Linked DNA regions of Homo sapiens. The protein of the gene in region 1 interacts with the protein of each later gene in a pairwise test. Each region holds a gene or a part of one and is shown on either strand. Other genes may lie near its edges.

Evidence for each region.
Region 2: the proteins of MYG1 (region 1) and ROM1 interact in binary tests that used the Homo sapiens proteins (3 or more experiments, as listed by UniProt).
Region 3: the proteins of MYG1 (region 1) and TLCD4 interact in binary tests that used the Homo sapiens proteins (3 or more experiments, as listed by UniProt).

Annotation. Positions count from the first base shown.
Region 1 is NC_000012.12:53,297,577-53,301,322, reverse strand, and holds the start of MYG1 (MYG1 exonuclease precursor), read right to left. Parts: upstream 1,629-3,746; 5' UTR 1,586-1,628; coding exon 1,370-1,585; intron 1,174-1,369; coding exon 1,061-1,173; intron 1-1,060. Other genes in the region: PFDN5 (prefoldin subunit 5), read right to left, coding at 1,978-2,054, 3,173-3,278, 3,399-3,473. UniProt on the Homo sapiens protein: 3'-5' RNA exonuclease which cleaves in situ on specific transcripts in both nucleus and mitochondrion. Involved in regulating spatially segregated organellar RNA processing, acts as a coordinator of nucleo-mitochondrial crosstalk.
Region 2 is NC_000011.10:62,611,539-62,615,284, reverse strand, and holds ROM1 (rod outer segment membrane protein 1), read right to left. Parts: upstream 2,029-3,746; 5' UTR 2,004-2,028; coding exon 1,414-2,003; intron 1,028-1,413; coding exon 781-1,027; intron 665-780; coding exon 446-664; 3' UTR 169-445; downstream 1-168. Other genes in the region: EML3 (echinoderm microtubule-associated protein-like 3), read left to right, coding at 3,434-3,605, 3,689-3,746. UniProt on the Homo sapiens protein: Plays a role in rod outer segment (ROS) morphogenesis. May play a role with PRPH2 in the maintenance of the structure of ROS curved disks. Plays a role in the organization of the ROS and maintenance of ROS disk diameter.
Region 3 is NC_000001.11:95,115,515-95,119,260, forward strand, and holds the start of TLCD4 (TLC domain-containing protein 4), read left to right. Parts: upstream 1-1,840; 5' UTR 1,841-2,103; intron 2,104-2,408; exon of another isoform or gene 2,409-2,577; intron 2,578-3,746.

The DNA.
Region 1 (3,746 bases):
ACACCTGTGTTTCTTTTCAAGATGGAAGATACTTGAGAAGGGTTTTAGGCTGTAGGGAAGGAGAGGCAGAGACACTAGTGGAACTGTGACATGAAATCCCAGAGGATAGGCCAACAGTGGCTCACACCTGTAATCCCAGCACTTTGGGAGGCCAAGGCGGGGCAGATCACAAGGCCAGGAGTTCGAGACCACTCTGGCCAATATGGTGAAACCCGTCTCTACTAAAAATACAAAAATTAGCCGGGTGTGGTGGTGGGTGCCTGTAGTCCCAGCTACTCGGGAGGCTGAGACAGGAGAATCGCTTGAACCTGGGAGACAGAGGTTGCAGTGAGCCGAGATCGTGCCACTACACTCCAGCTTGGGCGACAGTGGGAGACTCCGTCTCAAAAAAAAAAAAAAAGAAAAGAAAAAAGAATCCCAGAGAAGAAAGTAATAGACTGGAAACAGGACAGAGGATTAACCTCCAATAGAAGGGAAGAAATTTCCCTTAGTTGGTAGGAGGGAGCTGAGGATGTTTGAGGTGGGAGACTGAGGAAATGCTCAACTTCTTTTGAAAAGAGGCAGGGACACTCAGTTTGATGCGGTAGAGGCTTGAGGGAGAAGAAAAGGATTGGAATGGGCTACCCTTGAGCAAGAAGGATTTCCCTTTGGAAGGGTGTAAATGAAGTAGAAAACTTCACACATCTGAACTGTCACCAACTGCCACAATCATGTGGGCCCAGCAGTTAGGTGCAGCAGCAAGGGCACCAGAATGGATTAATCACAGATGGGTTTATTTAGTTGGGGTGATGAAGTTGCTGATGGAAAAAAAGCCTTGGCTAAGGAAGGAGATGAGATAAGGGGCCTGAGGGACTCCCTGGGAACCAAAGGAGGTCCCAGGCCAGGGAGATGGGTGAAGAACAGGCAGGGCCGGAAGGATGATGTAGTCCTAGTGGGAGTTTGATTTCAGTGATGAAGCAGTTCTTTTCGCTGACGCGGACTACGGCAGTGGATGGCTGAATTGGAGCACAGAGGAAAGCTGAGGTCAAGGAAGTTAAATAAATGGTATCTGAGAACCTACCTCTGGTGATGGTCATATCGGTGTCTCCGAGGGTCGTACTCGCCCCCCACGTCCACCACGATGTCACAGGAAGCGAGTTTTTCGGGATCCCGGGTCCGCACAATCTCTGCATCCTGCGAGGTACACAGGGGTGAAGGGGCTGCCGGGTGTCGCCGGGTAGGGGATTAATGCTGGACTTCAGGGAGGCAGGAAGGGTAGGAAGGGTGCTTGGGCTGCCGGGCGCTATCGGAGTGACCCTGTTGGCGGAATGCCATCCACCCCGGAGGCATGCATGCACGCAGTCCCAGGGTCACTTTTCGCGGACCGTACCCGGTACTCCGGCAGGAGGCGAAGCAGTGCGCATGCCAGTGCCTCGTCGCAGTGGAAGGTGCCATTGTGCGTCCCGATTCGGGGCGGTGCCATGAGTTTGCTGCGGGATCGTTTTGGGGGCGGGACGGACTCTGGACCGAGCATGCGGTGCCGGGTATACAGGGGTGGCGGCGGCAGCAGCAGCGTTAAGAGGCCGCGCAGGAATTGGTGTCCCATAAGCAGCTCCCTGCAGGGAGGCAGGAGCGCCGACCCGGAAGAGGAAGCGCCAGCGCAGCCCCACTTCCGCTTGCCAACCGTTCCCTTGGCAACCAGCTCTGCAGAGTGAGCAGCAGCAGACTCCCAGCCTAGGATTTCTTCCAGCTGGTCAAAGGGCCCTGCGATGGAGCCTCCAAGAGGCGCATCGCATCACCCCTGCGCATCAGGCTCTGAGACGGGGCCCACACTCTCGACCACACCCCCCATCTCATCACCAGTCCCTTGCTTAATCCAAGAAAAGACCAACATTCTGCCCAGCTGGCACATTTATTGGCATTAAAACACAAGACCCTTCCCATCACCAGGAAGCCACGCCCAAAGGGTGTCCCTCTGCCCCATTTCTGCAAAAACTCTCAGGCCTTAGCAGTAGCCTGAGCTGCCCCCAGGGCTGTGAGCTGCTGAATCTTCTGACTCATCATTTCCATGACGGCTGTGGAAAAAAATAAGAGTCAAAGGTTAGAAGCAAAAAGGAGAACCTAGAGTTAAGGAGAAGTGACAGGCAAGTTTAAGGACAGGCGACCGACTAACTACAGTTTGTTAATAACCTTTTTTTTTTTTTTTTGAGACAGAATCCTGCTCTTGTCACCGAGGCTGGAGTGCAGTGGCACGATCTTGGCTCACAGCAACCTCCGTCTCCCGGGTTCAAGCGATTCTCCTGCCTCATCCTCCCGAACAGCTGGGATTACAGGCATGCACCACCATGCCCGGGCTAACTTTGTATTTTTAGTAGAGATGGGGTTTCACCATGGTGGCCAGGCTGGTCTTGAACTCCTAACCTCAGGTGATCCACCTGCCTTGGCCTCCCAAAGTGCTGGGATTACAGGCGTCAGCCACTGCGCCTGGCATTGTTAATAAAACTTTAACTCAGTGATCCACTGTGGGGTCACTAACACAAATTTAGGGTCTACAATGCATCGGTCAATATGCTAACACAGCTGGGTGTGGTGAGAATGAGACTCTTCTCGGAAAAAAAAAAAACCTGCTAACCAAAGATATAAAAACGAACACAATATGGTATTAAATGAGTCTGACATAATCAGAAAACTATGATGGGGAAAGATTTTTACCTTTGGAACACTGGTTCTGAATCCTGATTATAACAGAGGGGAGCTTTTTTAAAAAAAAACAGACCTTGGTACAACTTCCCCTCCTTTGACTTCCAAGTTGATTTAGTCAATCTGGAATGGGCCCAAGCTTTCTTTTTAAACTTCCTGAGTGATTCTCATGTGCAGTCGGGGTTATAATTGCTGGTATTTAGTTCGTTTGGATCATGATTCCTTCCTGTGTGTTCATCTCATTCCCCCATTCCATCGTCATTAAATAGGAGCTCCACCAAAGCACAAACATGATTTCCTTCCTCTAAATTTCTCAAACGCTCAACCCAGGAATCTACAGATAGTGATTATGCAATACACAGATTCTAAAGATGCCAAAGAGAAACTAAGACATAGTTTTACTCCAGCAAAGGGGACACCCCCGTGGTTCACACTGCAATCCATGTTCCTTATTATGGAGATAGGGTCAAGAGGTGCCCCAGGAAAAACTTACCCTGTTTCATGGCGTGCTTCTCCTGAAGAGCTGGTTGGATTTTCTCCATCTGCTTGGTTAGAAAATCTATCTTCCTCTTGAAGAAGTCCTTGGCATCCTCAGCTGTCTACAAGATCAGAGGTGAATAAGGGGCTAAAAGGAGACTCCCTCTGGCCATGCTGCGCTCTAGAGCTTCCCCTGAATTTCCCTTCCCTGTTTAGAGGGGCATCCACATGCTCTCACTCACCTTCTCTACATAGTACCCAGTTCCCACATCGATGAGCACGTGTTCCACATCATGCAGCTTCCCAGGGACATACATCTGAGAAGCAAGAATTAAGGGAAAAACTAGCCAGCCCAGCATGAGCCATGATTCCGCCAGCCAGCCTGCTTGGCCTCCAAAGACCCTCTTTTTCCAAAAAGCTACAAGGCATAAGGACTGAATAATCTGGAGGCCTTAGAACAATACCTATAACTCCAAATGGAAAGAAGACAGAGAAGTTGGTTCTTTAAGGAGAAAATGATGTATGCTGGAACACCCTCTTGTCCTGCCTCATCCCATCTCTCACTCTCTAAGCAGTTCTTGCAATTCTTC
Region 2 (3,746 bases), on another chromosome or scaffold:
TTTTCCTTTGCTTCTTACATTGGGTTCTTGCTTTCTGATCCTTACAGATGTGGGCTCCTGTTGCTGCACAGGTCGAGCCAGGGTCCAAACTTTGGAGTCCTAGCTGCTCCATCAGACAGAAATCAGTTCTCCCAGGCCCCCATCCCCTTGACAAGAAAAAGCAATTGCTTCCATCCAAAAACTTTATTGAGTCTATATCAGAATCAGCCTCCAGGCCTTCTCATGTCACTTTCCCATCACTCTGTTCTTTGCTGTTCCCTGGTGGTTCTGACTACAAGGGCTAGGCCCTAGGACATCTGGTTTTCTTTCTTACCCCAGTCCAGCTCGCTGACTATCCTTAGCCCCTCTAATCCTACGATCCCCCCAACCTGGAGCCTTGGTAAGGAGTTGTGAGGTTTTCAGACTTGTCCATCCCTCCCTCTTCCTCACCCCAAGCTCCAGGCCTCTAGGCCTCAGATAGATCCTCCTTGGGAGGTGCTTCTCCTGGTGGGGCCTCCTCAGGTGCTGGCCTGCAGGCAACCCCTCCCTGTAGCCATGCTGTTTTCAGCATATCTTTCAGCCCACTGGGAAAGAGATAGCCCTGGGTCTCTCCTCCCGCATCAATGACCCCTCCAAGCCCCTCCAGTGCTGTTTGCAGGTACCGCAGGCCAAGGAGCACCAGAGCCTGTGGGGGAAGCAAGGGGAAAGAGTCAGGGAGAGTCAGCGGTTCCAAGAGGCCCAGGGTTGGAGGCAGGGAGGAGTCCCGGGTGGGAGGAGGTGTCAGATGCTTTGCTGACTCACCTGCAGTAGGAAGGTGACAGCCAGCATGCTACCCAGTGTGCCTGCCAAGTCCTGCAAGTGCTCCAGCAGCACCTCATGGCACCCTTGGGCCCAGAGGTTTTGGTTGGGTTGTCGGGGATCGAACAGGGGGTGGGCGTAGGAGTCTGAAAGACGGTTTTGCAGGCAAGGCCGGGGTGAGTGGGGGTTGCAACAGGAGAAAGGGACCCCATCAGTCAGGTATAGGCCTTCTACATTGCTCTGGATCCGGCTGCAAAGGGAGGGACAGAGGGGTTAGGATGTCTGGAGATAGAGGCCTGGGGGAGGGACTGAAGGGCACAGGTGTTCAGAAGGGAAAAAGAATAGTAAAACATTTACTGACTGCTGTACTATGTGCCAGCCAAGCATAATTCACATCTTCACAACAACTCTATCAGATAAGTACTATTATTTCCATTTTACAGGTGAAGGAATGGGCCCAGGGTGGTTTGGTAACATGCCCTGGGTTTCACAGCTAATAAATGGCAGAGCTGTAACCAGTCTCTCAGCCACTATGTTCTACTTATTGCCCCTCTGAGCGAGGTGGGGATTCAAGGCAGCAGGAGGGAGCCTGTCCAGGGAGGAGGAGGAGGAGGAAGGGAGACGCAAATCACTCACTCAGCCACATCCCGGTCACCGGGATCCAGGTAACGGCTGCTGACCCACTGGACCCCAAACCAATCCTTGTACCCGTGGCGCCCGCAGCAGTGGTACCTCAGTTGCAGCTCATCCACCAGCCTTTTGGCCTGACAGTGCCCAGGCACCTCTGTGTCCTTGTAGTGAGCCAAGGCAGTCACCAGGCCCTCCTCCAGCGCCTCATCCAGACTCCCAGGCAAAGCCAGGGCTAGCCCGAGGCCGACGACCAGGAGCCCCCCCCCACCAGCCGTGCCAGCCACCAGCAGCGGGCCCAGGACCCCTCGCCAGGGAGGGTATAGAGCTGCATTCAGACTTGCCCGGCTGGCTCCTACACCCACTAGTCCTGTGCCCAGAGCCACCGCGCCCGCTGCCAGGGCAGCCTGGGGCAGGACAGGGAACTGACAGGAGGGAGCCAGGAAGGTGCCAAGGTGCCTTAGCTGGACCAGGAGGTGCCCACTACAGAGGAGGATGACGCCACCAGCCAGCGCCAGCAGCCAGGAGAGGAGCCAGAGCCCTTGTGCCAGGCGGATGCGGGGCTGCAGGGGCAGCACCAGGGGCAACACCGGCGCCATCTCCCATCTCTGCCCAAGGGAATGCAGAGGTGTCAGGGATGGAAGCTGGCTGGGGCAGGATGCTGAGTCAGCCCGGCCCGGCTTGAGCTGGGCTAATGCCACCCTGACCCCAATACCCTGAGCATCCTCCCATCCTCAGCCCTAATAACCCGCCCCCCTGTCAGCCCCAATACAAGATGCCTTGGCCTTGCCCCTTACGAGAAACTCCGCCCCTAGGCCGAGGGCCCGTTTTGTGACCCCGCCCCTGCCCCTCGCGGAAGTGGTGGGGTTGGTCCGCTCAACCCTGAGGGGTTAGGGGCTGGGGGGCGGAGATATCGGGGCGGGCGCTCCCTTCCCCGTCCCCTGGGAATCCGGGGGCGGGGATCCGGGAAGGGCCTGGAGCCGGAGGCCGGGAGTAGGCCAGGGGGTCAGCCGGCTAGCCCCGCCCCCGTACTGAGCGGCGAGGCCCGGACAGGGAGGGGTTACCAAGCGGCCCGGCCCCCCCTCGGGCCCGCCCCCCCTCCCGCGCTTCCTGGCGGCTCCGCGTCCGGCGCCTGTTTGTGCTGCGGCGCTGTGGCACCGGACGGCCCTGCCACCCCACCCCCGGGAGCCGAGAGCGGCCCCGGGAGAGTCCGAGGGCCCGGGGGGGTCTGGAGACTGCGGCCCCGGGCCCACAGCGCCCCCTCCAGGCCCCTTCCCCGCGCCCGACAGCGCCCCCTCGGGGTGGTGGTACGGCGCCCTTCGCGCGCGCCCCGGGGTGCTTCCCCTTCCCCTCTCCCCGGCCGTGGCCCCCGCGGCTTAGACGCCTCCTCCGCCGCCGCCGCTCGGAGCAACCCGGGGGCCGGATGGACGGGGCCGCGGGGCCCGGTGAGTACGGGGCGGGGCGGGCGGCGTGCCCCTTCCCGGAGCGCCCGGCTCGTCGGGTTATGCCAGAGCTGGACGGCTGTCTGGAGGCGTCCCCGCGTGCTCCTCCGCCCCAGGGGCTCCGAGCATCCTCCACAGTTCCTCCGGTCGCCCTCCCTAGTTGCTTGGGTCTTGCTGTCACTTCGGGCTTCCCCAGCGTCATTCTACGCCCCACGTAACTCCGGGCCCCTCGATGTTTCCCTGCCCCCTGCGTTACTCCGGGCCTCTTCTCGTGGTATTTCAGGTCTTTTTCCTTCTGATCCCCACTGCCCCCTGAGACCTTCACTGTGACTCTGCTCACCACTCACACTCTCTCCTGTCACTCTGGATCTCTTTTCTTGTACTCTGGGTCCTCAGTATGACTCCATTCCCGCACCCCGTTCTCTCTCCTGGTGTTCCCCCGGCTCAGTTACTCAGCTTTCGCTGGAGACCTGAGCTTGCTGGGGGCGCGTGGGGAGGGCTGCGGTCCCTGCCCTCACCAGTGCGGCGCCTCTCTCTGTGGCTCCCACGTTCCTCGGCAGTACTCCATATTTCCCCCCCGGTACTCCATGGTACTCCCAGTCTTTGCGGAGGCTGAGACGGCAGCAGGAAGGGAGCTTTGCCAGGTTTCTCGCCTGCCCTGCCAGAAGGAGGCCCTTGATCCTTTACCACCGTCTCCTCCCCTCTGGACGAGCATTCAAGCCTGGGGCTGCCTGAAAGGGGCAGTCCTACCGGACACATGTAAAGTTGTGGGGAGACAGAATCCCCTCTACGCTTTCTTCAGGTGATGGGTACATTCTGAGTACCTCTTGCCCTTTTCCCAGGTGACGGCCCTGCTCGGGAGGCCCTCCAGTCTCTGAGCCAGCGGCTTCGGGTGCAGGA
Region 3 (3,746 bases), on another chromosome or scaffold:
AAACTTGCAACATTCAACTACTATTTACTGAATTCCTCTCATAGCTCAGGCCTTGTCCTTGATATATTAACTTATATGTTCTGTACAATCTCAAAAACAATCTTGCAGTTTTCATGAGGCATTTGTAGAGGCCTAATATGAAGGAATATAGTGGGACATAGAGTATAGTGGATTTCTGTGGGTTTACCTGGCTTTGGTTACTGCTGTTGGTGTTAGAGAATTATGCATATCAAAGATAATGATGGTGCATTTATCAGGAAAGAACAGAGCTACTATCAGCCACCAGAGACTAGCATGGGAGAGTTTCTGTAGGAGGTAGTGTTGATACAGACTCTTGAGAGGACACTGTGAAATTGGTATTTTCTGGGCTGACTTCACAGATGTTCACATATAACCATCCTGCCCACAGAGAGTTATGAAATAGCTATGTGAGTGCACAAGGTAGCTATTGCGCAAACCAAAGTTGTCAGGTACTGCACATATTGTGAAGGGACTATGATGGGACACCGTGTGGTTCAAAGAGCACTGGAGCCCTGGTACATCCTGAGAGTCTTGGGGAGAAAAAGGGGAACACGCATTTGGGGGCCTGAAAGATCTTTCTCTCTGCTTGACTGCAGGGCAGGTTTCTGTCCCTCCCTGTTCTGTGGTATAGATTTTGTCTTTTCCACATCAGTCCAGGTCTTCAGAGTCACTATGAATTATTATTACCATTTTAAAGATGAAGAAATTGAGCCTCAGTGAGGTTCAGTTAGCTAAAGGCACACAACTCTAATAAACTGACAGAATTCCAGGTTCTGATTTAAATTCTATTGCCCTCTCTTGAAAATAAACATGGACAGCTTATATGAGCTTTTGTGTATATATTTTCTGGTCTAAATCTGCGGCAGATATGTGTGTCTTTCTGCGCATGTATATAGTAGATCAAATATGTTAGCTCTATTGACATTTCTTAGAAATAAATATCCTGTTATCAATGATAGTGTTTACAAATTATTTATTTAGAACTTACCTCTTTTCAAGAAAAGGCCTTGTGATTGCTCTCTGCGAATTATAATGCATGAGTATACCTCTTTGTTATTTTGTTTTGTTTCAGACAATTATCTCTGGTTGATGCAGATCACTTGGAGGCTTTTGGGGCTGTATATAACAGGTCAGAACATCTATTTAATGTCAAACTTTATCTACTAGGCAACTTGGAATTCTCAGCCAGCACCAAATATTCAAATCCAACTTCCACACCCCGACAACAGAGGGGTTCCGGGTGTAGGTGTAGTGCTGGTGCACCCATGAGGGTGTTTTTCAGGAATTCTGGAGGTGGTGCTGGAGAGAACACGCTTCTTCTACACGCGCCCCCTACCAGTTTGGTATGCACCTGCAGCCCCAAAGAAGAACTGGCGGGACTCGAGTGTGGCCGTGTCAGACGTGGCAAGAAAAACCAGCAGTTGCCTTTTCATCTCTTTTCTGATGATCTAACCATGAAGTCCCCAGTATTTGAGCATTTAAGGCAGAATGTAAATTCATAATTTAAGAAGATTTTTTGTTACGTGGCTAGCCCAGGTACTGACCGCTGCGGGGGCGGGCTCACACAGTTCCCCCGCTGGCAAGTTTTGTGACTTGCTTTGGAAAACCCGGGAATTGCACCCTCTGCCCTTGGCAAGGTGTGAGCTTCCAGGATCTCTCCGCTGCGACTTCGGGTGTTAGGGTTTTTGGGCTCTTTCCGGGACCCAAGTTCCAGGGCAAGAAGGTCTGCTCGGCGGCCCGCCTCGGGGCCCCGCCCACTTTGGCCAGGGTCGGAGCCGCCCGGAGCGGGAGCCGGAGCCCGAGCGGCCGCGGCCCCTTTAAGGAGCAGCTCTGCGGTAACCCGAGCCCGCAGTCCGGGCGGGCGCGACGGCCGCCGCGGTAGCTGGAGCCTCCGCGACTGCACCTCCAAGCGGCCCGGAACCCGCGGCTTCCCTGGCTCCCGTGAGCATCTCACCGGGCGGCACTGGCCAGCGCCAGCCCTCGGGCCGGCCCGGATGAGCAGACTCCTGTAGACACCCGCCGCCCTCTCCCGGCTCGGCGCAGCCGCCGCCCGCGCGCGACTCGCCCCGGGACCCGGCACAGGTGACGCCGTTTGGAGGGGGGGTTGGGGAGGAAGGCGGGCTTGCCTCGCCCCGCGGCTCCCCCGCGCCAGCCGCCAAGCGCAGCCCGCGGAGAGGGGTGCCGCGGCTTCCCGCCCCTGGCCTAGCGCGGCCGAGAGCTCCTGCGCCTGGAGGCTGGGTGGGCGTCCGGCGCGCGGGAGGCGGCCCGGGGCTCCCGGGCGGGCTCCGGCAGGTGTGTGCGGAAGGCTCAGCATCGTCCCCGCCCGGCGGGCCACGGCGTCGCTCCGGGAGCAAATGGTGTCCCGGGGCCCGCGGCCCCCGCGCCGCCCGGGCGCCCCGCATTCCTCTCGCGTTTCTCGGGCTGCACGATTCCGGCTGCCCTGTCTGCCTGGCGGTGCCTCTCGGGTCTGAGCTTAAAGCGGGTGGGTGCAAACCTTTGGGCATCCAGGGAGAGCTTTCTTGTTAGAGCCCACACACAATCGGGCGCATCAAGTGGGTAAGTCCCCCTCCCCCGCCGCCACCTTCTGAAACAAGTAGCTCTTATTTACCCTTGCAGTTCTCAAGTGGGTCCCATTTTTAGCCACTGAGTGCTGAAAAGTCTAGTGGGAAGGGACCAGGCGTAGAGTCGGAGGGAGAAATTGGTTTCTATTTCCATCTTTACCTCTGTAACCCCTAAGTGCCTCGGTTTACCCAGCCATGAAATGGGATTCGTAATGCCAGCAGTTTCCTACCCCTCCAAGACGGCAGAAAAACCTCTGTGAAAACACTTTGAGTCTAAATTCATTTAAGAGTCGCTGTTGCTGGTCTGTATATTTTTAATTGTACACACATTTGAGTGTTAATGTGGTGCACACTTTTATATGAAATTATGAAATTTACTTTAAAGACTGATCTTGGATAATGTTTAATCCAAATACCAGTTTGGAGAAGATGGAAGAGTTTGTGTGGACCCTAGGAATTGATGTGTGAAATAGGAAAAAAGATTTAATAAAATCTTTACGCAGTCATAAATGGAGTTGAGAAAAATTGACCTTGGATTGTGGTGTTTTAAGTGAGTTACTCCCGTGCCAGCGCATGGTGTCGATTGAAATGTAGCTTCATCTTTGTGTAGCCGATTAAGGTAATAAGTTAGAGAATCCCAGCTCCCTTTTAATTGTGCTATATATGAGGAATTTTTATCCTTGCTTATCTTTTCCTTAAATTGGGCGAAACGAAATTAGAAAAGTGTATTCCCGCCGTGTTAGAAAATATGAAAGAATGGGTGAAGAACCATGGATTTTAGTTTATTTGCCACGCCCCTCCTGTGCCATCTGATAACCCAGAGAATATTTTGAGGGTGCTTCTTTTTTTTTCTACGCCTGCAACTCCTTTTGTCCCATTACCTCCCTCTGGAGTTTGAATCTTTACTGTCCTCATCCTTGAGATGAATTTTATCTGTTTAGGCTGGATGCCTCTGACCCAGCTGCCCAATCAGTCATTATTTATTTACAGTATTAGATTTCCATTTATATTCATTTCACTCTAAGCCTTCTTTACCCTGGTGGAAAGAATAATGGGTCTTTGCTACTAATGCTTTATACTTGGAGGTGAACTAGGAATGGCATGCTCAAGGTGCTGAGACTAATGCAAACCCCAGGGAAGCTAGGTCTTCACTGGAGTCTTCTG